Linked DNA regions of Homo sapiens: all the other regions are linked to region 1. Evidence: fine-mapped expression QTL. A gene starts in region 1. Each other region holds a variant in brackets. All regions are shown on one strand. Distances are between the middles of the regions.

Evidence for each region. PIP is the estimated chance that this variant, and not a neighbour inherited with it, causes the effect.
Region 2: its variant is fine-mapped to the expression of SLC2A5 in prostate (GTEx, PIP above 0.99).
Region 3: its variant is fine-mapped to the expression of SLC2A5 in blood mononuclear cells (TOPMed, PIP 0.93).
Region 4: its variant is fine-mapped to the expression of SLC2A5 in whole blood (INTERVAL, PIP above 0.99).
Region 5: its variant is fine-mapped to the expression of SLC2A5 in whole blood (TOPMed, PIP 0.92).
Region 6: its variant is fine-mapped to the expression of SLC2A5 in whole blood (TOPMed, PIP above 0.99).

What each region holds. Positions count from the first base shown.
Region 1 is chr1:9,067,437-9,071,523 of GRCh38, forward strand. SLC2A5 (solute carrier family 2 member 5) reads right to left here and starts at 2,199. Exons shown (of 12, transcript NM_003039.3): 1 at 2,068-2,199. The coding sequence starts at 2,100.
Region 2 is chr1:9,000,304-9,004,390 of GRCh38, forward strand. SLC2A7 (solute carrier family 2 member 7) reads right to left here. Exons shown (of 12, transcript NM_207420.3): 12 at 2,670-3,215. The coding sequence ends at 2,997. Among named protein-coding and RNA genes, the nearest start is that of SLC2A7, 24 kb to the right of the region's middle. RefSeq lists an enhancer at 3,978-4,087. The variant A/C (reference allele first, on the strand shown) is at 1,772.
Region 3 is chr1:9,017,239-9,021,325 of GRCh38, forward strand. SLC2A7 (solute carrier family 2 member 7) reads right to left here. Exons shown (of 12, transcript NM_207420.3): 4 at 1,971-2,095; 5 at 985-1,137. Among named protein-coding and RNA genes, the nearest start is that of SLC2A7, 7.1 kb to the right of the region's middle. The variant C/T (reference allele first, on the strand shown) is at 1,857.
Region 4 is chr1:9,329,737-9,333,823 of GRCh38, forward strand. The region is part of intron 1 of SPSB1 (splA/ryanodine receptor domain and SOCS box containing 1); the gene reads left to right. Among named protein-coding and RNA genes, the nearest start is that of SPSB1, 39 kb to the left of the region's middle. The variant G/T (reference allele first, on the strand shown) is at 1,585.
Region 5 is chr1:9,127,409-9,131,495 of GRCh38, forward strand. It overlaps GPR157 (G protein-coupled receptor 157), which reads right to left and starts at 1,694. Exons shown (of 4, transcript NM_024980.5): 1 at 1,237-1,694. The coding sequence starts at 1,619. RefSeq lists silencers at 1,551-1,900, 1,961-2,280 and enhancers at 2,982-3,051, 3,072-3,191, 3,482-3,571. The variant G/C (reference allele first, on the strand shown) is at 2,453.
Region 6 is chr1:9,032,199-9,036,285 of GRCh38, forward strand. It overlaps SLC2A5 (solute carrier family 2 member 5), which reads right to left. Exons shown (of 12, transcript NM_003039.3): 12 at 2,908-4,087. Among named protein-coding and RNA genes, the nearest start is that of SLC2A7, 7.8 kb to the left of the region's middle. The variant A/T (reference allele first, on the strand shown) is at 2,274.

The DNA of each region.
Region 1 (4,087 bases):
TGCCACGTGGGGGTGTTTCCATTCCTTTCTGCAGCTGGACTTGGTGGACGTGGGGAACGTGGCAGTTGTGCCTTTCTCTGGACAGCGGAGGACCTCCCTGGACCCCAAACACCTAAGTCCTCATCACCTCCGTTTCTTTTCTATAAAATGGAGGTGATGACACTTGATTTGTCTAACACTTTCTTAGTTGTAAGACAAACAAGATGACCCAAGCGAAGGGGCTGAGTAGACTCCAAAGCAGTGCCTCTCAGTTGAGGGCTGGGAGTGGATTCTGCCCTCTCGGGGACATCGGTTGTCACTCCTGGGGGAGGGAGCTACTGCGTCTAGAAGGTAGAGCCAGGGACGCGGCTAAACATCTTATAACACACAAGACAGCCCCTACAACGAAGCGTTAGCCAGTGCCAAATGGAAATCACGCGGAGGTGGAGAAACCAGCCTAAAGAATGATTGAAAAGTAGTAACATTTACGATGGCCGGGCGCGGTGGCTCACACCTGTAACCCCAGCACTTTGGGAGGCCGAGGCGGGCGGATCACCTGAGGTCAGGAGTTCTAGACCAGCCTGGCCAACATGGTGAAACCCCATCTCTACTAAAAATACAAAAATTAGCCGGGTGTGGTGGTGCATGCCTGTAATCCCAGCTACTTGGGAGGCTGAGGTGGGAGGATCGCTTGAGCCCAGAAGGTGGAGGTTGCAGTGAACCTTGATCGCACCACTGTACTTCAGCCTGGGTGACAGAGCAAGACTCTGTGTCAAAAAAAAAAAAAAAAAAAAGCGAGAGAGAGAGAAAGAAAAGTAGTAACATTTACGGGGAACTCACTCTGTGCCAGGTACTTTACATGCATTATCTCATTTAATTGCTCCAGCACCCTATGAGGCGGTATGGTTATTACTCCCATTTTACAAATGAGAAAACTGAGGCACTGAAGAGTTAAAGAACTTACCCAAGTCCCACAGCTAGAATAGGATGGAGCAGGAATGAATCCTGGGGGCTTCTACTTCCCAGGCCCACTCTTTTTTTTTTTTTTTTTTTGAGATGAAGTTTCGCTCTTGTTGACCAGGCTGGAGTGCAATGGCGTGATCTCAGCTCATTGCAGCCTCTGTTTCCCAGGTTCAAGTGATTCTCCTGCCTCAGCCTCCTGAGTAGCTGGGATTACAGGCACCTGCCACCACGCCTGGCTAATTTTTGTATTTTTAGTAGAGATGGGGTTTCACCATGTTGGCCAGGCTGGTCTCGAACTGCTGACCTCAGGTGATCCACCCACCTCAGCCTCCCAAGACCCACTCTTAATCTATGTGCTACAGAGCATGTTTCCAGTCTGCCTATGGTGAGGGTCTCACATCCATGCCTGAACAAATGCTGTTTTGCAAAAATGTGCACTATCCTTCCTCCACTCCAAATATAAGCAGATGCTATTGTGATGAATAAATGCAAATTCTTATAAAGTGTTAATAAGTCAGTGTTACTTTTCTGACATTATGCATTTTCCTCAATCAAGGGAATCTAGAAAGTAAACTGCAATTACGTTGCAGGAGTCCATGAAAATCTTTCCTCTCTAAAACAAGGGAGCCTCAGGATCTAAAAGGCAGGAAACCTACGTGACAGATCTGAACTAAATTCAAATCAAGCAACGCCTTTTCTGAGTTTATCTTGCTTTCATGCAGCTCAGCTATGTTACTTGCTGAAAAAATTAACTGCCCTGAAGCCAAAAGCAAAACGAAAGCAGAGCGAAACATCTCACCAACCATAGAAGGATTTTGCAGCTAACATGTTTGGTTCAAGTTGGGACAAATGAATCCTTTGGGTCTCTTCCATTCAGTTACAGATCCTGCTGTTAAAGGCTGTTCCAGTAGAATGATTTCCACAGAGCACTTGTCTCTAAACCTCTCTCCTCCCTATAAAAGACCACCTGCTGGACAAGACTTTCCCCCTCTCCCCACCATAATCCCTCCCAACACAGAGTTCCCTCTGCAACACCAGGAGCCCCCCAGCGACTCTCCAGGAAGGCTGCACAGGCCCTGGCAGCCAAGCCTGCTCTTGGCCCCTTTCCCTGAGCAACACACTCACCCCTTCCTTCATGCTCTGATCCTGTTGCTCCATGCTTGCTCTGGAAGGGCAGAGTGCCGCTCACCTCCTTTTAGCCAAAGTAACGCGTGCACTGAATGGAGAGAGAAGACATTCTGGGTGCACTTTGGCCATGCCAAATAACAGCCAATAGCATTTTTATAGCCAGATTAAGTCAGAATAACCCTTTCAGGAACCTGGTCTTCCTTTCACTTCTGCTTTTAAATGAAACGTCTGGGGTTTGGCTAAGTAAGTGGGTGCCCCCTGGGGACTGCAGGCCCAGCATTGTCCTGATGGAACAGTCTACGGTATTTCCCCATTGCTAAAGTCTCTACCAGTCAGGCTCATGGTGAATGACTGGAAGGGTTATTTCTGTCAGGAACGCATGGCAAACAACAGCTGTCCTCCACCCTACATGACACCAGGTAATCTGAGGGCAACAGATTGGGCCACTAGAGACCTCAAAGATGCTCTCCCTGCCAGGAAAACTACAGTCAAGTGTCTCTTGGTGGAGAGTCAGTTTTGCCCAAGTCACCGTGTAATACTGTTTGGGGAAAGTTTCTCATTTTCTGTTTTTTTTTTTTTTTTTTTTTTTTTTTGAGACGGAGTTTCGCTCTTGTCCCAGGCTGGAGTGCAGTGGCATGATCTCAGCTCACTACAACCTCCGCCTCCCGAGTTCAAGCGATTCTCCTGCTTCCACCTCCTGAGTAGCTGGGATTACAGGCGTGCACTACCACGCTCGGCTAATTTTTATATTTTTAGTAGACACGGGGTTTTGCCATGTTGGCCAGGCTGGTCTCGAACTCCTGACCTCAAGTGATCCACCCTCCTTGGCCTCCCAAAGTGCTGGGATTACAGGCGTGAGCCATCGTGTCCGGCCTCTTATTTTCCATTTTAAGGAGCTCAGAATGACCTAGGGATGTTACTTTCTGTGTATTCATCACTACTGGGAAGGTGGTAAATACCTCGAACCCCTTTCCAGGCAGGGCAGGGAAAATGAGTCACACCTGCTGGTCCGGGTCCGGCCATCTCAAGGCCAGGCCACTGTCAGCCCCCCATGTTTGGCACTCATTCAGCTGCCACAGGGCACACCAGCGCAAGTGGCCAAAATCCAAAGTCTCACAAGTCCCACAGGTTTTCATCTTTACAGAACATACTCCCAGTTCTATTTGCTGTGGCGTAAATCCAGTTACTTTAGTGATTGATTCTGAATCTCATGCATCTTTAAACAAGCAGAGACTGGGAGCCTGTGTTAGGCACTGTTCCTTGCATTAGCAGCAAATCCCCAGGGTTGCTCAGGGTGGGAGACTGTGAGAAGCCTAGCAGCGTGGCCGTCTGTGTGTGTGTGTGTGTTGGGGGGTCGGGGGGGTCCCTATTCACAAGGGAGAACTCAGCATTCCCTTTCACCAGCTACTGCCTGTCTTTTTCTTCTGCGTATCACTGTCCTAGCACACTGACTTGTGACTAACGCATAGCAAGACCAGAGGTTTCCAATTATTTCAAAGATCTAGAAAAAGTTTCCAAAGAAAATGCACTTTAATTGCAGGGGTAGGGTGGGGAGAGGAAATCAACGATGGGGGAGTGAGGAGACGGGTACAGGTGTGCAATCCAACACAAAGAAGAATCCGGCCGGGCGCGGTGGCTCACGCCTGTAATCCCAGCACCTGGGGAAGCCAAGGTGGGTGGATCACCTGAGGTCAGGAGTTCGAGACCAGTCTGACCAACATGGTGAAACCCTGTCTTTACCGAAAATACAAAAATTAGCCAGGCATGGTGGCAGACGCCTGTAATCCCAGCTACTTGGGAGGCTGAGGCAGGAGAATAGCTGGAACCCGGGAGGCGGAGGTTGCAGCGCACCTAGATCACACCACTGCACTCCAGCCTGGGCGACAGAGCGAGACTCATCTCCGTCCCCCATCCTCCCCCCAAAAATAATCGTCCAAAGTTTGTAGTCATCAGTCATGTCAAGTGCATGACACCTGCTTCTATCTAGGCCCAGATCTTCCACTTCTCCCTGCCTTTG
Region 2 (4,087 bases), 67 kb before region 1:
GAGCGAGACCCTGTCTCTAAAAGGGGTGGTCTAGGCTGGGCACGGTGGCTCATGCCTGTAATCCCAGCACTTTGGGAGGCCGAGACAGATGGATCACCTGAGGTTGGGAGTTCAAAACCAGCCTGGCCAACATGGTAAAACCCCATCTCTACTAAAAATACAAAAATTAGCTGGGTGTGGTGGTGCGCACCTGTAATCCCAGCTATTTGGGAGGCTGAGGCAGCTGAATCGCTTGAATCTGGGAGGCAGAGGTTGCAGTGAGCCGAGATTGTGCCACTGCACTCCAGCCTGGGCAACAGAGCAAGACTCTGTCTCAAAATAAATAAATAAATAAAAATAAAATAAAAGGGGTGGTCTAATTCTCAACACAACCATCCCCCCTGCCACTATTGTGGGCCGGAGTGACTGACTAGCATCTAGCAAACAGCATGTGACTTTCCTGGTGTGTGTGTGTGTGTGTGTGTGTGTGTGTGTGTGTGTGACTCTGTCTCCCCCTGCCCCATCACCCCCAGGAATCCAGTGCCCCAGGTGTGAGGAGCCCAGGCTGAGTGTCAGTTTCACTGCCCTCCAGCACCAGCGATCAGAAGCGGAAGAAGCCTCTAGACAGCTCTGCTCCTGGGCCTCCGAGTCTTCCAGCTGAAGCCCCAGATGTCAAAGGGCAGAGAGAAGCCATTCCCACCGAGTCCTATCTGAATTCCTGACCCACAGGAACCAGGAGTCACAATAGCTGTCATTGTTTTAAGCCACTAAGTTTGGACACTACAGGGCAACAGGTAAACCTATAATTAATATGCAAAGTGACAAGCATGCCAATGGAAAAAGATGCACGGTGATTCCAGGGCCCAGAGGTGAGAGGACCTCCCGCTGGACAGGACAGGAGAGGTTCTTCAGGCTCATTCGAGCTGGGTTTTGAAGGCTGGGTAGGGCTGTGATCGTTTGGAGGGAAGGCACATGAAAGCACGCCAGGGAGAAAGGCACAGAGGATTGGAAGTACTTGGGGTGGTGGCAGGAAACCCACGTTATGACAATACGGTTCCAGCCTTATCATCTCGAGTGATAGAATCAGCCTAGGATTCCAGCAGGGAGTGACATGGTCAGGCCTGAATGCAGGTGCTATTTTTTTTTTTTTTTTTTTTTAGACAGGGTCTCACTCTGTCACCCAGGCTGGAATGCAGTGGCATTATGGCTCATTGCAACCTCTGCCTCTCGGGCTCAAGCAATTCTCCTGCCTCAGCCTCCCAAGCAGCTGGGACTATAGGCGCACATGACCGCACTGGCCAATTTTTGTATTTTCAGTAGAGACGGGGTTTCATTGTGTTGCCCAGGCTGGTCTCGAACTCCTGAGCTCAGGTGATCTACTCGCTTCAGCCTCCCAAAGTGCTGGGTTTACAGGTGTGAGTCACCACGCCCGGCACTGCACCTTGTTTTCAAGGAAGATATCAACTTCCCCATTGGAGGGAGAGGAGGAGAGAGAGTGGACTGGGAATGGTCTTACTCCCTTGCCTGTGGCCCCTGTTGTGGGGGGAAGAATGAGAGATCAGACTGCTACTGTGTCTATGTAGAAAGAAGTAGACAGAAGAAACTCCATTTTGTTCTGTACTAAGAAAAATTCTTCTGCCTTGAGATGCTGTTAATCTGTAACCCTAGCCCCAACCCTGTGCTCGCAGAAACATGTGCTGTGTTGACTCAAGGTTTAATGGCTTAGGGCTGTGCAGGATGCGCCTTGTTAAAAATGTGTTTGCAGGCAGTGTGCTTGGTAAAAGTCATCGCC[A/C]TTCTCCATTGTCGAGTACCCAGGGACACAATGCACTGCGGAAGGCCACAGGGACCTCTGCCCAAGAAAGCCTGGGTATTGTCTAAGGCTTCCCCCCATGGAGATGGCCTGAGATATGGCCTCGTGGGAGGGGAAAGACCTGACCGTCCCCCAGCCCGACACCCGTAAAGGGTCTGTGCCGAGGAGGATTAGTGAAAGAGGAAGGCCTCTTTGCAATTGAGGTAAGAGGAAGGCATCTGTCTCCTGCTCGTCCCTGGGAACGGAATGTCTCGGTATAAAACCCGAGCGTACGTTCTGTTTACTGAGATAGGAGAAAACTGCCTTATGACTGGAGGTGAGACATGCTGGCGGCAATACTGCTCTTTACTACACTGAGATGTTTGTGTAAAGTCAAACATAACTCTGGCCTATGTGCACATCAAGGCACAGCACCTTTCCTTAAACTTATTTATGACACAGAGCCTTTGCTCACATGTTTTCCTGCTGACCCTCTCCCCACCATTACTCTATAGTCCTGCCACATCCCCCTCACCAAGACAGTAGAGATAGTGATCAATAAATACTGAGGGAACTCAGAGACCAGTACTGGTGAGGGTCCTCCGTATGCTGAGCGCCGGTCCCCTGGGCCCACTGTTCTTTCTCTATACTTTGTCTCTGTGTCTTATTTCTTTTTTCAGTCTCTCATCCCACCTGACGAGAAATACCCACAGGTGTCGAGGGGCTGGCCCCCTTCACCCTGTGATCGACAGGACAGAGCTGGGCACGCAGGCTGGGATTCACGGTGCAACCTGCAGCCACGGGGTGGAGAAAGGAAGCCACGTCGCCAGGAAGGCAATGGCATTCAGAGCCTTGGACTCCTTAATTGATGCAATGACGGCAGCTCGGGTATCCATAGCAATTGTGGAACTTGAAAAGTTTTACTTTAAAAAAGTGCATCTATACATCATTTAAATTTTGGTGCCAATGTAGAATCGGAAAATCGAGTCTTAACCAATCAAAATTCACGTGCCGGCCCCTTCCTCCAGGTCATTCCTCAATGGCTAGCCTTGGAACTTCTCAGCTAAATATGCATTGTTGTGGGTATTTAATAATATCCATAATTAAGTTAAATGGGGGCAACGACAAAAGCCTCCGTGCTATTATCCTCCCCAGAGCCTGGGGCCGGGAGGCCCATTGTCATAGAAGGAAGCCTTGAATATGGGCTCCCGTCCTTCATGCAGGGCCACTAAAAGGAAGTTTCCTTGGCAGGAGAGGCTGTGGGAGGCCCAGCATCAATGGTTTCTTCTTTCTCCTCTGGAAGCTTCACCCTGTTTCTCTTGGCAAAAATGCGGTTTATCTCCACAAATGTTTTGCCCTTGGTCTCCGGAATAACCACGTAGATGTAAATCGCAGTGAGGAGGCAGATTCCGGCAAAGATGATGAAACTGTAGGCACCGATGGCCTCCTAGACCAGGAGACGAGAAAGACAGGAGGGGGCAGAGAAAGGCAACAGTGCTGATTCAGCTGAGCACGTTGGCTCATGCCTGTAATCCCAGCACTTTGGGAGGCCAAGACAGGTGGATCACCTGAGGTCAGGAGTTTGAGACCAACCTGGCCAACATGATGAAACCCTGTCTCTATTAAAAATACAAAAATTAGCTGAGCATGGTGGTGTACACCTGTAATCCCAGCTACTTGGGAGTCTGAGGCAGGAGAATCGCTTGAACCCAGGAGGTAGAGGTTGCAGTGAGCCAAGATCGCGCTACTGCACTCCAGCCTGGGCAACAGAGCGTGACTGTCTCAAAAAAACAAAAACAAAAACAAAAACCCCAAAACAAACAACAAATAACCAATGCTGGTCGAGGCCTTTGTGAGTCCATAAAGGAGTTGCTTGGCAGCCAGTTTTGTTTCACTCCTGGAGGAATGATATAGCTAGAAAACTGTGATCACTAAAGATTGTTTGCAGGAAAAAAAAAAAAAAAGCTAGAAATTGGATTCCCCCTCACCCTATTATCAAAAAGAATCTGGTTGGGTGCTGTGGCTCACACCTATAATCCCAGCACTTTCGAAGTTTGAGACCAGCCTGGGCAATATAGCAAGACCCCATCCCTAAAATACATAAATAAATAAATAGCCATGTGTGGTGGCCCATGCCTGTGGTCCCAGCGACTTGGGAGGCTGAGGTAGGAGGATCACTTAAGCCTGGGAGGTCAAGGCTGCTATGAGCTGTGGTTGCACCACTGCATTCCAGCCTGGGTGACAGAGCAAGGCCCTGTCTAAAAAAAAAAAAAAAAGACTGCTTAACCTTTTGACAGTAGGGGTTTATGGCCTCTGTGC
Region 3 (4,087 bases), 50 kb before region 1:
GAACCCGGGAAGCGGAAGTTGCAGTGAGCTGAGATCGCGCCATTGCACTCCAGCCTGGGTGACAGGGTGAGACCCTGCCTCAAAACAACAACAACAAAACAACAACAACAACAACAAAACTAGCCAGAAGGAAAATCTCTGACCAATGCTGTTGGCTGTAGGTCATAAAAGGCCCCCTATTCTGCAGAGGGTCCTGCCCCACACCCAGAAGGAAGGCTGTACAGAGGCCAAGAAGGACCTACACAGACAGGCCTCGCGGGGTCTCCCCACTCAGTCCATTTACGTCGGATCAGACCCTTTTTGTCCAATGCTATTTCTACTCGGCTGTCCGTACTCTGTTGAGCCTGGACTAAAACGGACAATTTCCCCTCTATCTCTGGCTCTTCACTCTGAAGGCTCTGCGAATCTGGTTAAATATGTTTGCATGCCTTTTCTATTAATCAATCGGCTTCGTGTCAGTGATTTTTCAGCAGACCTTCAGAGGGCCACACTCCTCTCTCCTAAATCTCCACCACGACCCCCACTCGCTCTCAGGCAATGGCCTTGCCTCCTAATTCACTGGGAAGATAGAGGCCGCCAGAAGAAAACAGCCACCCAGTGACAGAGACGGTGGCTGTGAACCTGCTTGCCCTGCATTGACTTCCCTCTGTACTGGACCATTCCTATGGCAGCCAAATTATGCTGACACTTTTCATGGCTTGAAAGAAACCTCTTCTCTCGACCTCACTTCCCCAACTTCTCTCCTTCCCTTTATAGCAGAACCCCTACCTGCCTCAGAGCCCGATTCCCATTCCTAAGCACGATTTGTCGCCATCACTCACCAAAACAGCCCCGACCACGTCACCCATCCCTTTGCCCACCACACTGCCCAACACCTGACCCTAAAATCATCTCTCGGGTCTCATCTGACTCGATCCGTCAGTAACACCTGGCACAGCCGAACGAGAGACTGGACCTAGCGTGACCTCTGCGGCTGCCGGTTACCTGCCGGGTTGCCCAAGATGGCCTGGAGGCTGAAGATCTGTGCTAGGAAGACTCCAACGATGACGAAAACCTCGGTCATTGTTCCCACCATGCCTCTCAGGTTCTTGGGGGCCAGTTCTCCCAGGTACATGGGAAGGGCGCTGTAGGAGATGCCTGGTTTGGGCACAGCAGAAATCAGGGCAGGCAAACCGCAAACGCAGAATCTGAGATGCAATTCAATTCCGTTTCCTAATCCCGGGGCTTCTCCATGCTGTCAGCCCCTCCGTGGAGATGGAGCTCGGCCAACCTCGACTGTTTAGTTTGGACTTACACCAAAATCCCTCCAGAATCCTCAGCCCCCACGGGGGAGTCACCAGGATGTGATGAGGAGACCTTTTCCTTTCTAGCCACCGGGCTGGGCCGCTTGTTACAGGGGAGGAGCCTAGGCCTCCGTGTGTCCCTGGGACTTAACGATAAAACTTTTGCTTTGGTCTATTTTCTGATTTTTCTAAAGCACAGATTGCTTGTCTAACTTTTATTCATAGAAGAAATTACTGTAGTTAAGAAACTACTGAGTTTAAATTGTCCATCTTCCTGGGACGATACCTTGTAAAACCTTATTGGTTATTTGTACTTCAAGGTGAAAGTGTTTCTAAAGATCCATAAATAAAGGGAAGGGGCTAGTAAGCGTGAGGCTTGGCCAGGTACAGTGGCTCATACCTGTAATCCCAGGACTTTGGGAGGCCGAGACAGGAGGATCACTTGAGCCCAGGAGTTTGAGATCAGCCTGGGCAACACAGTGAGGCTCTGTCTCTAAAAAAAGATTAACTAATTAATTAATTAAGAAAAACAAGCATGAGGCTTGCAAGGGCCTGGGGATGCAGATGGGAGGA[C/T]GTCTTGAAATGAAAAGAGGCAGAGCCAGGCAGACACCTCATCTGCTCCTGCTTCCAGCCTTGGCCAAACAGACCCTTCCCCCAAGGCTGAGCCGGAGCCTGGGCCCCAGGTACCTGCACAGACTCCCAGCACCACTCGGGAAAAGACGATCAGCTCAAAAGCCTTGGCCACTTTGCTGACTCCCATCAGGATGGCGGGGATGATGGCAAAGATGTTGTTGATCAGCAGGGTCCCCTTTCTGCAAAGACAGTGAGCCCAGAGGGCAGGGGTGCGTGGAGGCCGCGGAAGCCCTCCCAACACCAGCTCCTATTCTGCGGGCAGTCACTACAGAGGCGCGGGGAATGTGCCCGAGAAAGAGCTGAAGCAGGGGGCCGTGGACTGAATGGTGTCCCCCAAATTCCTATGTTGAAGGCCTTAACCCCAGTGTGATGGGATCAGCAGGAGGGACCTCTGGGAGGTGAATAGGTCATGTGGGGCCCTCACGATGGGATAGGAAGAGACATACAAGAAACCACTCTCTTTTTCTGCCCCGTGAAGACACAGCCAGGCTGGGCATGGTGGATCAAGCCTATAAACCCAGCACTTTGGGAGGCTGAGGTGGGCGGATCACTTGAGGTCTGGAGTTCGAGACCAGCCTGGCTAACATGGTGAAATCCCATCTCTACTAAAGAAACAAAAGTCAGCCAGGCGTGGTGGCACATGCCTGTAATCTCAGCTACTCGGGAGGCTGAGGCAGGAGAATCACTTGAATCCGGGAGGCAGAGGTTGCAGTGAGCCGAGATCGTGCCACTGCACTCCATCCAGAGCCACAGAGCAAGACTCCAACTCAAAAAAAAGAAAAAGAAAAAGAAAAAAGACACAGCCAGAAGAAAGCTGTCTGCAAGCCAGAAAGAAGGCCCTCACCAGGAAACAGATCTGCTGGTACCTTGATCTTGAATTTCTATCCTGCAGAACTGTGAGAAGATAAATGTCTGTTGTTTAAGTCTGTGGTTGTAGCAGCCTGAACTGATTAAGACAGATGGGAAGAAGGGGCGAATGGGCAGACGTCCCAGGAAGGAAGACTTGGGGTCAGTGGGGGTAGAAGCTGGGGAGGGGAGCATTCTAACGATCGGAGCTGCCTGCAAAGGGGAGGGCAGGAACAAAGAATGGGCTGTCCCAGGAGGTAGAGAGCTTCCCATCACTGGTGGTATTCAAGCTGTCGCTGGTGGTTTCTAGACTAGACACGATGACTGTCAGGAACGTTGAACAGGGAATTCTTACAATCAGTGGGGTGCAGAATGGGACTACATGATTTCTAAGATCCCTTCCAAGGCTGAAAAACCACAAGCCTGAGAAGGAGAGGGAGTGCCTGAAAAACAGCGCTATGCCAGGTGCGTCCTGCTGCCTTCATGATCCACTCATCTGCTTGACTCTGTGCTCTAGGTCCCCTGCCAACTTGCAGCAATGGCTCCTGTGCCCCCCCCCACCCCCCCGCCTTTGGCTTGGGTTTTGCACAGGAGAAGAATGGGCAGTGGACCAGAAAGAGGGCAGAGAGCTCCCGAGCTGTGGGGTTGCTGGCTGGTGCATCCTGATATTCTCTCTTTTTTTTTTTTTTGAGATGGAGTCTTGCTCTGTCGCCCAGGCTAGAGTGCAATGGTGGGATCTTGGCTCACTGAAACCTCCGTGATATGGTTTGGCTGTGTCCTCACCCAAATCTCATCTTAAATTCCCACATGTGTGGGAGGGACCTGGTGGCAGGTCTTCCCAGTGCTGTTCTCGTGATAGTGAATAAGTCTCACCAGGTCTGATGGTTTTATAAGGAAGAGTATTTCTGCACAAGCTCTCTCTTTGCCTGCTGCCATTCATGGAAGATGTAACTTGCCCCTCCTTTGCCTTCCGCCATGATTGTGAGGCTTTCCCAGCCACGTGGAACTGTGAGTCCATTAAACCTCTTTCTTTTGTAAATTGCCTAGTCTCGGGTATGTCTTTATCAGCAGCGTGAAAATGGACTAATACACTCCGCCTCCCGGGTTCAAGCAATTCTCTTGCCTCAGCTTCCCAAGTAGCTGGGATTACAGGCATGCGCCACCATGCCCAGCTAATTTTTGTATTTTTAGTAGAGATGGAGTTTCACCATGTTGGCCTGGCTGGTCTCGAACTCTTAGCCTGAAGTGATTGGCTCACCTCAGCCTCCCAAAGTGCTGGGATTACTGGCGCGAGCCCCCGTGCCCAGCCTGGTATTCATTTTTTA
Region 4 (4,087 bases), 260 kb after region 1:
AGAAGTTAGTGCTGGAGTCCAGGAGACTTCCCAGATCTCGGCATCGGACACATGGCGGTGGGGCCGTGGGGATGGTAGGCTTGGGTGTGGAGGTAGAAGAGAGCGTTCTGTGGGTAACGTGACTCTGCAGACATTTCTTCTCAAAACTTGGATACTATGAGGCCTTTGGAATCTTTTCTGGGACTGATTCCTAGAGTCCAGGGAGAAAATTGCTGTGGATGACAGGACAGCGGGTTCAGAGTGGCCCAGGAGCAGGTGACTGCACATTTTTGCAAAGAGCAAAAGGGAAACCTGACCATCTGCATGGGTCTCTTACCTCCATTCTGAGGACACAAGGCATCTCTTCTCACTGTAGTTTGTCAAAGATCAGTGGCGTAAATAATTGCTAGGTGCTTGCTCATCGAGAAGAATCTGAATGACACCTGATATGTACACATAAAGATGTACCAGGCTGGGCACGGTGGCTCACGCCTGTAATCCCAGCACTTTGGGAGACTGAGGCGGGCGGATCACCTGAGGTCAGGAGTTTGAGACCAGCCTGGGCAACACGGTGAAACCCCGTCTCTACTAAAAATACAAAATACAAAATTAGTCGGGCGTGGTGGTGCATCTCTACTACTCAGGAGGCTGAGGCAGGAGAATCGCTTGAACCCGGGAGGCGGAGGTTGCAGTGAGCCAAGATTGTGTCACTGCGCTCCAGCCTGGGCGACAGGAGCTAAATTCTGTCTCAAAATAATAACAATAATAATAATAATAATAAAGATTTGCCAGTCTCCTTACTCCTACCACCCCAAGGGAACCACAGTAACATCCTGCCAGCTGGACCTTGTGATCTGGACACACGTATCCCTAACTTCACCCGACACGTTTGGGGGAGTATTTTGGGTTTGCCTGTCCTCTTCCTTTCCTCCCCTCCTTTTTCTCTCCCTTCCCAAACTGATGTTAGACTGGAGCATGTTCTTCTGAACTTTTTTTTTTTTAATCGTGGTAAAACATACAAAAACCTAAAATTTACCATCTTAACCATTTAAGACGTGCAGTTCAGTAGCGTTGAGTACATTACCGGATCGTACGATCATTTTGAGTTTGAGGAACCACCCTACTGTGTCCAGCGGCTGTGCCATTTTGCGTTTCCATCAGTGATACCCAAGGGTTCCGGTTTCTCCACATCCTTGCCAACACTTGTAATTTTCTGCGTCTTTTTTTTTTACATACTTAAAAAAAAATCCTAAATCTTTTATTGAAGGATGATATACCCAGAGTAGTTCCATACCTCCCTGCCTGCACTGACCTGTATGTCTGCATCTTTGGGGATGCCATTATTTTATTAGAATGGGCTCTCCTTTCATATTCTGTCGTGCTCTCCCCGCTGAATGCTTGTGGAAGTGTCTCCAGGCTCACTGATGTGGTTCTACCTCGTCTTTTTAATTGCTGTGTAACAACGGTTCATGGTGCAAACATATCAGAGTGGTCTGCCTAAGTGACCTTTGTCAATGACTGTGCACTCGATTTGGAGTGGCAGGAAGTGGCCGCACCTCTGTCATAAATACCCGTTATGGATCTCCTTCTGCTACTGGTGCTCTT[G/T]TTTTTTTTTTTTTTTTTTTTTTTTTTGAGGTGGAGTTTCACTCTTGTTGCCCAGGCTGGAGTACAGTGGTACGATCTTGGCTCACTGTAACCTCTGCCTCCTGGGTTCAAGCGATTCTCCTGCCTCTGCCTCCTGGGTAGCTGGGATTACAGGCATGCGCCACCATGCCCGACTAATTTTTTGTATTTTTAGTAGAAACGGGGTTTCATCATGTTGACCAGGCTGGTCTTGAACTCCTGACCTCAGTTGATCCACTGCCTTAGCCTCCCAAACTGCTGGGATTACAGGCGTGAGTCACCGTGCCTAGCCGGCACTCATTCTTATGGGCTCACGCACCAGGGGTGGAATTGTTGGATCAGTTGCCATTCATTTCCCCGAAGCTGCCGGATTCAGATCCCACCAGCCACGTTGGTACTTGCTCTCCGCTTCCTGTGTGTAGACAGGAGGCACCATCTCTGTATTGACTCTGTAGCAATCTGGAGGGTGCAACGTGCGATCTCATTACTGCTTTTCTTTTATGTCCTTTTGTCTCCATGGGAGGTTGAGCTTCTTTTCCTACAAGTTTACTTACTGTTTGCATTTACTTTTTCTTTGCATTGTCTGTTCCAGTCCTCTGGCTATTTGACTATTGTGTAATAAAAGGACCAAAAACAAATGTGCCAAACTGTTGACAGTTTGAGTGTTGAAAATATGTGACTCTTTTGTACGTGTTTGAATTACAGATTTTCAAAATTTAAAAAAGCCTTGGCCAGACGAGGTGGCTGATGCCTATAAATCCCAGCACTTTGGGAGGCCAAGGTGGGAGGATTGCTTGAGGCCAGAAGTTTGAGAATAGCCTGGGCAACATAGTGAGACCCCACCTCTACCAAAAAAAAAAAAAAATCTCAATGAGAGCGTTTTAGGAAGATTTGTTTGAGTGGGCTGAGATCTAAGGGACTTGGAGACTCTTGCAGTGGCCTTGCAAGTGATGACTTAAACAGTGAGAGTGAAGGTGGGATTCAGCAACTATGGGGGCAGCAATTTACAATGTTTGGCGCTAATGTGGGAAGCCAAGAAGAGGAGGAATTGAGGGAGATGAGGGGTTTGAATCTGGGTGAACTAGAGGTTGATGATAGAAATTGGCAGCATTGTAGAGGCCAGGAGGGGGCCATTTGAGTCTACAAGGGATGTATGAGTGGGAGCAGGGTCACTGCTGGGGAGATGATATTTGGTGGACACGTCAGGTTCACAGGCAGACACTCCCTGGAGCCATGAGAGCAAAGGATCCCACGGAGGGAGGTCCTGTGGAGGGAGAGACCCTCAAAAACATCTGTGTGTAAGGAGCAGGAAGAACAGGCGGAGGAGCTGAGACAGAACCTTAGAGAGTGAGTCAGATACTGTCACAAAACTAGGAGCGTTTCAGGTCAAGGGCATGGTGGTATTTTCAGATACAGTTGAGAGGTAGAGAGAGGATGCTTGTTTTTTGGGCCCGTTCAATTTATCGATTAGGAGGTCATGATCTTGGAAGAGCATTTTCCCTGCAGGGTCTAGGCCTGAGGTCAGCTTGCTGCTTCTGCAGCCTGAGTGCGTAGAGGGTGACGGAGACCACAGGAAGTGTGGTGGCAGCAGGAGAGGGCATCGGCTGTGGGTGGTTCTGGCCTGGGCCCCATCCTGGGCTCCGTGGCTGAGACTTGGTTTCAGTGCTCTCCACCAGCAAGTGCTCACTGAGCTTCTGCCCTCGTGGGCTGCGTCAGGCACCCAGCAAACCCCCAGGGTCCAAGAATCAGCCTCCCAGGTGCACACTCCATGGGAAAATGGCCAGAAACATGGAACCCACCTTCTTCGGTGAGAACCTTGGTCTGCCCTGTTCAGTGTCTGCTCCCAGAGGGACCAGCACAGCCATCTGTCACTTCCTGGACAGCAGCCTGTCCCTAATTCTTAGCCATTTAGGGCCTGGTCTTATATGCATTTATCTCCTTTTTCAAGTCCACTTCTACTTCCTGTCAGTTCTGTCTTCTTGTCAGCTTCTTTTTTTTTTTTTTTTTTTTAAGGCAGAGTCTCACTCTGTTGCCCAGGCTGGAGTGCAATGGTGTGATCTCGGCTCACTGCAACCTCCGCCTCCCAGGTTCAGGCGATTCTTCTGCCTCAGCTTCCCAAGTAGGTGGGACTACAGGCGCGTGCCACTATGCCTGGCTAATTTTTGTATTTTTAGTAGAGACGGGGTTTCGCCATGTTGGGCAGGCTGGTCTCGAACTCTTGACCTCAGGTGATCCGCCCACCTCGGCCTCCCAAAGTGCTGGGATTACAAGCGTGAGCCACCATGCCCGCCCTCCTTGTCAGCTTCCTGAAGCGCCTGCGGTGTGAGCCTGCTGTGAACAGCCTCATCCAGTGTAGGCTGACCCCAGAGCGGCCCGGGGAAGAGCACAGTCATTTTTTTATTCCAACGGAAAGGAAACGAGGTTGCCAAAGAGACCCAAGGAGCCCACGGGCCAAATCAATAGCAACATTCTCCCTCTGCCCAGC
Region 5 (4,087 bases), 60 kb after region 1:
TTCCAAGTACACACGATCTCCCGTGTACTCGGGGCCCACACCCAGCCAGCCATCACGGGACCCAGACAGGGTCAGATGGGATGCTGCCGGGAAGGCAAGGCAAGGCAGGGCCCTATTCCATCTGCAGCATCTGAGCCTCGGTTTGGATGATGTGTTGCAAAGATTTTTTACTTGTACAGCTGAGAAGCAGGTCACTTAGTTTCTCAAGGACCAGCCGGCCTCAGTGCACAACTGAAGGTCAAGCGACTCTTACAGCCCTGTAGCCTTGCCGTGTGACACCCAGGTGACCTGTCTCTGCCAAAGTGCTGACTGTGCTCGCAGTCCTTGGAATGCACTTAAGTTTTTAATAGAAAGGACCTATAATTAGGGCAGTATCTGATGCTCTGATCTGGGAGAAGGAGAAAAGGAAAACAGCCCCTAGGATTCCTGCCCTCAGTTCAGCACAGCACAGGACGCCATGAGATTTTCAAAACCTGACATTCCCCAGGGAAGGGCCGACCCTCTTCAGCGAGGCTTACTTGAAAGACGCTTGAATCGCAAAGTAAGGTCTTGGCTTTTCCCCACTCTCAGAGAGACTCCAGGAGGACTCCGAGACTCCCAGACCAGCCCTCCGCCCCTGCCCTCAATCTCAGAATTGCTGAACTCTGGAAAGTCAAGATCATCTAGAACAGAAATACAAGGGGCTGGGGCCTGAGGCTAGAAACGACCAAAGACAGAATAAAAAGCACAGTCCTTTGTAAACTGTACAGCAGAGACACGGCAGCTCGGGAGTGGCGGAGTGCACCAAGCTCACTGTGGCTTGGGGTGGGGTGGTGGCGTGGGACTGGCAGTTGCCGGCTCTCCAGCCCGGGACAGTTACCTAACTCGTCTCCCAGCCTGTTTCCCCATGGGCAGCAGAGACAGCCAGGACACAGTGAAGCAGGTCACAAGGGGCTCAGAGTGTCCTCCCCAGCCCCGTCCAAGGAAACAGGGCCCGGCTCTGGGGGCGAACTCTGTCCCCACTACCCCAAGGGGCTGTGCCCTGGGGCAGGCACAGCGGGGCTCCTTCGGGAGGGAGCGAATCTCGGGCAAGGCTGGCCTCCTCCCGCTGGCCCAGGACAGCCTCGGGGGCGCCAGCAGGCACTGCTTGCTGTGGGTAGGGGGTGTCCAACCTAGACGCGGCCTCTGGGAGGGCAAGACCGGGAGGGGTCGGCCTGTGTCGGGGGCTCCTGGAAAAGCAGCGCCACCGCCACCCACCTGACGACATGGAAGGCCCAAAGCAGGCGATCTGTGCGAGGCCCGCGCGCGGCGCGGACGATGCTGAGGTACAAGTAGAGCGCAATGGCCACGGTCCAGAAGAAGGAGCTGGTGTTGGCGAAGGTGGACAGCGCGCCCTGCAGCACGCAGTCCCACGACGGGCCCGCGAAGTTCTGCAGCACTCCGTAGAAGTAGGAGGCGGCCGAGAGCAGGTCGGCCAGCGACAGGAAGAGCAGCAGGCGCCGTGCCCGGCTGCGCAGGTCGGGCCACAGGGCGTGCGTGGCCACCAGCAGGCCCGAGCCGAGCGCGGAGAGTGCGCACGACAGCAGCACCACGGCGCGCTCCGACGGCACCAGCTCGGTGGGCGGCGGGGACGGCTGCATGGCGTGGGGGGCCAGGAGCCGGAGCGCCGCGAGGACAGAAGCCGGGCCGCGCGTGCGGCCACGCCGCCGCCGTCTGGGCACCGAGGCGCCCTAGGCTCGCGTCCAGGCGCCCGCCCCGCCCGCGTCCGGCCGCTCCCCCGCCCATCTGGGCCCCGGGCCCTGAACCCCGTCCACGCCCTGCGCCCCGCCCCTATATCCCGGGCCCTGAGCCCCGCCCACGCGCCGCGCCCCACCCCGGTACCCCGGCCTTTAAGCCCCGCCTACACTCCCAGCCCCGTCCCGCCGTCCCAGGCCCTGAGCCCCGCCCACAATCCGAGCCCCGGACACACGTCCCCCGGCCCACATGCCCTTCCCGCCCACACGCCCCCCCCCCGCCCGTGTGCCCCCGCGTTGAGACTGGGACTTAGAGCTCCGCCCACGCGCCCCGATCCCCTGTCCACAGGGCCCAGAGACCTGGGCCTAGAGCCTAACCCACGCGCCCCGCTCCGCCCACGCACCCCGCCACACCCCTGTGTTCCGGGCCCTGACCCTGGCTCAGGTGCCCTTCCTCGTCCCGTTGCCCCGGGCCCTGAGCCCCGCCCCCGCCACGCCCCTGAGGCTTCCAAGCTCCACCCGGTGCCCGAGGCTCCTGAGCCCCGCCCACGCCCTCACACCACGCCCCTAAGCCCCTAGGTCCCTAAGCCCTACCTCAGGGCACCCCCAGGTCCCAGCACCTGTCCCTCCACGCTCCTCCAGGCCCACCCCTGCTCTTGCCAGGTGTCTGGGACATCCAGTCCTGTGAGAGGAAGGGCTGGCATTTTTAGGGCTAATATTACTTTCCCTCTTTTCAGCCA[G/C]CTTCTGTGTGTGTTGTGAGTGGAAGGGCGTGAGGATCAGAGGCATTCTTTCCACTAGCAACAGAAACAGCTCTCGGGTATGATCCTCATTCCTTCAGCCGTGATCCCGACGTGTTCACAAGTTGGTGGTGACTTGGGGAAGCCGGCGTTTCCACCTTTTCTTAAAATAAGCATGCTATTTTTTAAAAACCATAGCTAACTAGGTGTGATTTTTAAAAAATGAAATGCTAGGCAGGGCATGGCTTTTTCTTTAAAAATTTCAAACTTTGTAATTAAGATGTAATTCACATACCATAAAATTGGCCCTCTTAACCGAACAATTCAGTAGTATGTTCACAAGTTTGTGCAACCATCATTATTATGTAATTCTACAACATTGTCATTACTCCCAAAAAGAAATCCTTATCCCTCAGCTGTTAGCCCTCAGTTCTCCCCGACAGCCCTGGCAACCACTCTTCTACCGTGGATTTGCTTATTCTGCACATTTCCTGTAAATAGACTCATATGCTCTGTGGCCTTTATGTCTGACTTTTTTAACTTAGCACGTTTCCAAGGTTCATCGTAGCATATGCAGTGCTTCATTCCTTTTACTGCCCCGTAATATTCCATTATATGGATATACCACCTTTTTTTTTTTTTTCTAGAGACGGAGTCTCCCTCTGTCGCCCAGGCTGGAGAGCCGTGGCATGATCTCGGCTCACTGCAACCTCTGCCTCCCGGCTTCAAGCAGTTCTCCTGCCTCAGCCTCCCGAGTAGCTGGGACTACAGGCACACGCCGCCACGCCCGGCTAATTTCTTTTCTATTTTAGTAGAGGTGGGGTTTCACCGTGTTGCCCAGGCTGGTCTTGAACTCCTGAGCTCAGGCAATCTGCCTGCCTTGGCCTCCCAAAGTGCTAGGATTACAGGCATGAGCTACCGCGCTCGGCAGGATATACCACATTTTACTTAGCTATTATTCATCAGCCGATGGACATTTGGGTTGTTAACACTTTTTAACTATTAAGAATAATACCACTATGAAAATTTGCATACAAGTTTTTTTGTGGGTGTATGTTTTCAATTCTCCTATGTGTATACCTAGGAATGGAGTTGCTGGGCCATACGCAACTTTATATTTCACCTTGTGAGGAACTGCCAAGGTGTTTTCCAAAGTGACTGTACATATCATTTTACATTTGCACTAGCAATGAAGGTCGCAATTTCTCTACATTCTTCCAAAACTTTTTTTTGAGACAAGGTCTTGTCGCCGAGGCTGGAGTGCAGGTACAACCACAGCTCACTGCAGTCTCAAATTCCTAGGCTTAAGAATTCTCCCACCTTGGCCTCCCCAGTAGTTAGGACTTCAGGTGCATGTCACCATGCCCCACTAATTTTTTTTTTTTTTTTTTTTTGAGACTGAGTCTCGCTCTTGTTGCCCAGGTTGGAGTGCAGTGGCGTGATCTTGGCTCACTGCAACCTCTGCCTCCCGGGTTCAAGCGATTTTCCTGTCTCAGCCTCCTGAGTAGCTGGGATTACAGGTGTGCACCACCACAACCTGCTAATTTTTGTATTTTTAGTAGAGACAGGGTTTCACTGTATTGGCCAGGCTGGTCTTGAACTCCTGACCTCAGGTGATCTGCCCGCCTCAACCTCCCA
Region 6 (4,087 bases), 35 kb before region 1:
ATGGTTTGGGCGGCTGCAGCTGCATTGGGAGGTGGGGTCGGTGGGGGCCTCCTGCCTCCTCCATGGAGCAGAAGGTTAGGGTCTATAGCTGCAGTTTGGGTGGCTGCAGTGGCACCCGGGGAGCTCCTGTTTGCTCCATGGAATGTGCAGCCTGGGCTGCACCTCCCTGCTGCAGCTGGTGTGATGGCAGCGGCAGCCGTCTGGAGTGGCTGCTGCCATCACCATCCCCTGACATTGTCTAATTCTCCCAAAGCGTCATTTCGCCTCAGCTTTCACCGATCTTTGCAGGCAGCTTGGCTCCCAGTGGTCTCCAAACTTTTAAAATCATGCCTCCCCATCAGTAAGAAAATGTTGCCTACAAACCTCTAATATATGTCTACTTATTTAAAAAAAATTTTTTTTTTGAGACAGAGTCTCACTCTGTTGCCCAGGCTGGAGTGCAGTGGCACACTCTCAGCTCACTGCAAGCTCCACCTCCCTGGTTCGTGCCATTCTCCTGCCTCAGCCTCCCGAGTAGCTGGGACTACAGGTGCCGCCACCATGCCCAGCTAATTCTTGTATTTTTAGTAGAGACGGGGTTTCACCTTGCTAGCCAGGATGGTCTCGATCTCCTGACCTTATGATCCACCCACCTCAGCCTCCCAAAGTGCTGGGATTACAGGCGTGAGCCACCACGCCCGGCCTATGTCTACTTATTTTTTATGTTATATATGTGTACGTGTTCTGTAAGTGACATAACACCCACTCAAGCAGGAATAGCAAAGGGAGGAAGGAAGAGTGAACAATAACTAGAGCTCCCATTCTTTCTTTTCTGCCTCAGTTGTAGTCTTCACCCTAGCAGTCTACCTTCTGCCCCCACACTACCCCTGACAGCACTCCCTGAGGTCACTGAGTCATTGAATCCAAGGGGAACTCTTTTTCTAGTCTCAGCAAATGGCAGAGCTTGGCAGCTCAGTCCTCTCTGCTGGCTTTCCTGTGCCCCTTGTTGGATGGTGCTCCATCTCCCACCTTAAAAAAAAAAGTTATTTATTTATTTATTTATTTATTAGAGACAAGGTCTTGCTCTGTTGCCCAGGCTGAAGTGCACTGGTGTGATCATGACTTCTAGGCACAAGCGATCCTCCTGCCTCAGACACCCGTGTTGCTGGGACTACAGGTGTGCATCACCACATTCAGTTAATTATTTTTATTTTTACTTTTTTTGTAGACATGGTGGGGGGTGGGGGTTTCTCACTGTGTTGCCCAGGCTGGTCTCGAACTCATGGCCTTAAGTAATCCTCCCACCTCAACCTCCCTAAGTGCTGAGATTCCAGGCATGAGCCAGCACACCCAGCCCACCTCTCACCTTTCATCCTCTCAGTTGGCAAACCTGGGGCAATCTTATGCAAATGCGAGGTTTTAACCTATTCTCGAATCTTTTGTAAGGATCTGATTTCCTTGCTGTCTCGTGGGCTCCTTCAGACTCTTCTCCAGAGCAGCTGGAATGATTTCTTAAATTGCAAATCAGATCAGGATACTCTCTGGCTCAAGTGAGCCAGTGGCCTTCCGACACATTCAGAATAGAATCTCTGATGCTCCTGGGGGCCAACTGAGTGTCTGCACAGTGCCCCCAGGCACCTAGTGCCCCCTTCCTCCTCCCCAACCCCCTTTCTGCCGCAGCATCACTTGCCTCCCATCGTTCCCTGAACCATGGCCAACCCTCTCCCACAAGACATTTGCATCTGCTGCCCCCCAGCCAGCCCCACTCCCCTCTCTGTTCAGCTGCTTCTCCACCTGTCACCCCTTGGGCTAATCTACTTTTCTTCACTGCAACTCTCACTCAGAACCCTGGCCCCAGGGCCTGGAGCCATGCCTGGCACACAGTAGGTGCTTACAGATATATGGTTTCCCCAAACTTATGTCCCTGCTCCCCTGAGTTCCAGAGCCACATGCCACCTTCCTTCTGGATATCTTCTGTGTGTCCCATGATCTCCTCCATCTCAATGTGTCCAAAAAGTATATGACCTTCTCCTAAAACCTGCCACCCAGCTCTTCCAGCCATTCCCCATTGGCCCATATTAGAAACCTGGCAGGGACGCCCGACTGCTCACTGCTGAGTGGATCCCAAATCCTACTGACTCTCTGAATGCTCCCTCACATTCGGCCCTGACTACTGCTGGCTTTGCTGGGTCCTCATTATTTACCAGCTGGTCTCCCTATCCAAGCCCCACCCCTTCACATTCATGCCAGGTGCTCCTGGAAACTCGGTCATCACATAACCCCTGGTTGTCTTG[A/T]CAATGAAGTTCAACTTGGCTCCTGGGACCCACAGGATCCACTATAGCTGCCCCCACCCCGCAGCCCCTGCCACCTCTCTGGCTTCACTTTCAGACCAAATAACTTGTAGCATCCCTCAATGCCTCCACACCTCTCTGTGCTGTCTGTTGCCTGGAATGCCCATCCCTCACTTTCCTATCACATCTTCTCCAACTGGAGAAATCACACTTGTTTTTCCAAATTCCTTACCTCCCTTCTATACTCCCACATCTCTCTTCCTGCTGTATTTTACTAACCCATGTGTAGATACTTATCTATATTTGTATATGTAGCCTGAATCTATATTAAACTGCATGTGAGTTCATACCAAGGTCTCCAAGTCTACTTGGAGTAGAGAGTGATCTACTACCACATGGATCATTCGCGCTCTCTCCCTGCTTATCTGTAACCTCCCACTGCAACTGTGAAATGGCCCCCACCATCTGCCATCCATTTACTAGATTGCTCAATCCTAGTATACATGCAGAGTGGCCTCTCACTGTATCTTATTTGTGAGTTTATTTGTCCTCAAGATTAATGCTTATTCCCAAGCACTGAAAAGTACCTAAGAAAACTAAATACATGTCACTGATCCAAACACCAAAAACATATAAAGTCATTTAATTCTCACAATGGACATGTGAGACATTTACTATTAGTGCCATTTAACAGAAGAGAAGACTGAGATACAAAAAAGCCAAGTAACTTTCCAAGTTGCACAACTAATGTGGCAGGACCAAGGTTTGAACCCAGGGAGCAGACATCCAGAACCATGAACTTCATAGCCTCCCCTGTGTTAGAGGTGCTGCAGTTTCTTGACTTCTGATATTCTGACCTGGCCTCTCCTCAGCTCTGAGAGCCTTCATCTTTGGTTGTTTCTGTGCCCCTTCCAGGCTGCAGATCCTTGCTGCAGAAGGCCAAGGATGGTTCAACCACAGTGTTCTGTTTACTTCCTCTGGGCCCGCTTGTGAGTGGTTTAGCTTGTTGCTGGTGGAATCTCCATTACATACCCACAAAAAGTGCTCCCAAGTCCCACTGCTCTCTCTCCCGGCCACCAGCCTCTGCCACCCATCTATGAGAAGACATCACTTCTTGCTACAGGCCATTCAGCACTTTCAAGGTTTTATCCATATTTTTGCACATACACTCACACTCACACCCTTTATTCATATCTCTAAGAAAAACCTCCAGCTCTCTATATTTTTGGGGAGAGACCTGTGTTAGACCATTTTCATGCTGCTGATAAAGATGTATCAGAGACTGGGTAAATTGCAAAGAAAAAGAGATTTAATGGACTCGCCATTCCACATGGCTGGGGAGGCCTCACAATCATGCCAGAAAGCAAAAGGCACGTCTTACCTGGTGGCAGGCAAGAGAGAATGAGAACCAAGCAAAAGGTTTTACCCCTTACAGAACCATCAGATCTCATGAGGCTGATTCACTACCATGAGAACAGTATGGGGGAAATTGCCCCCATGATTCAATTATCTCCCACAGGGTCCCTCCCAGAACACATGGGAATTATGGGAGCTACAATTCAAGATGAGATTTGGGTGGGGACACAGCCAAACCATATCAAGACCCTGTTCCTTTTCCCTTCCTCCCCCACCACAGTCTCAAGATTTTAAGACTCCTCAAGATTTCATTACATATGTGAGGACATTTGGAAGCTTCCTCAATCTTACATGTATTTATTTATTTGAGACAAGGTCTCATTCTGTCATGCAGGCTGGTGTGCAGTGATGCAATCATGACTCAGGGCAGCCTTGACCTCCCAGGCTCAAGCGATCCTCCC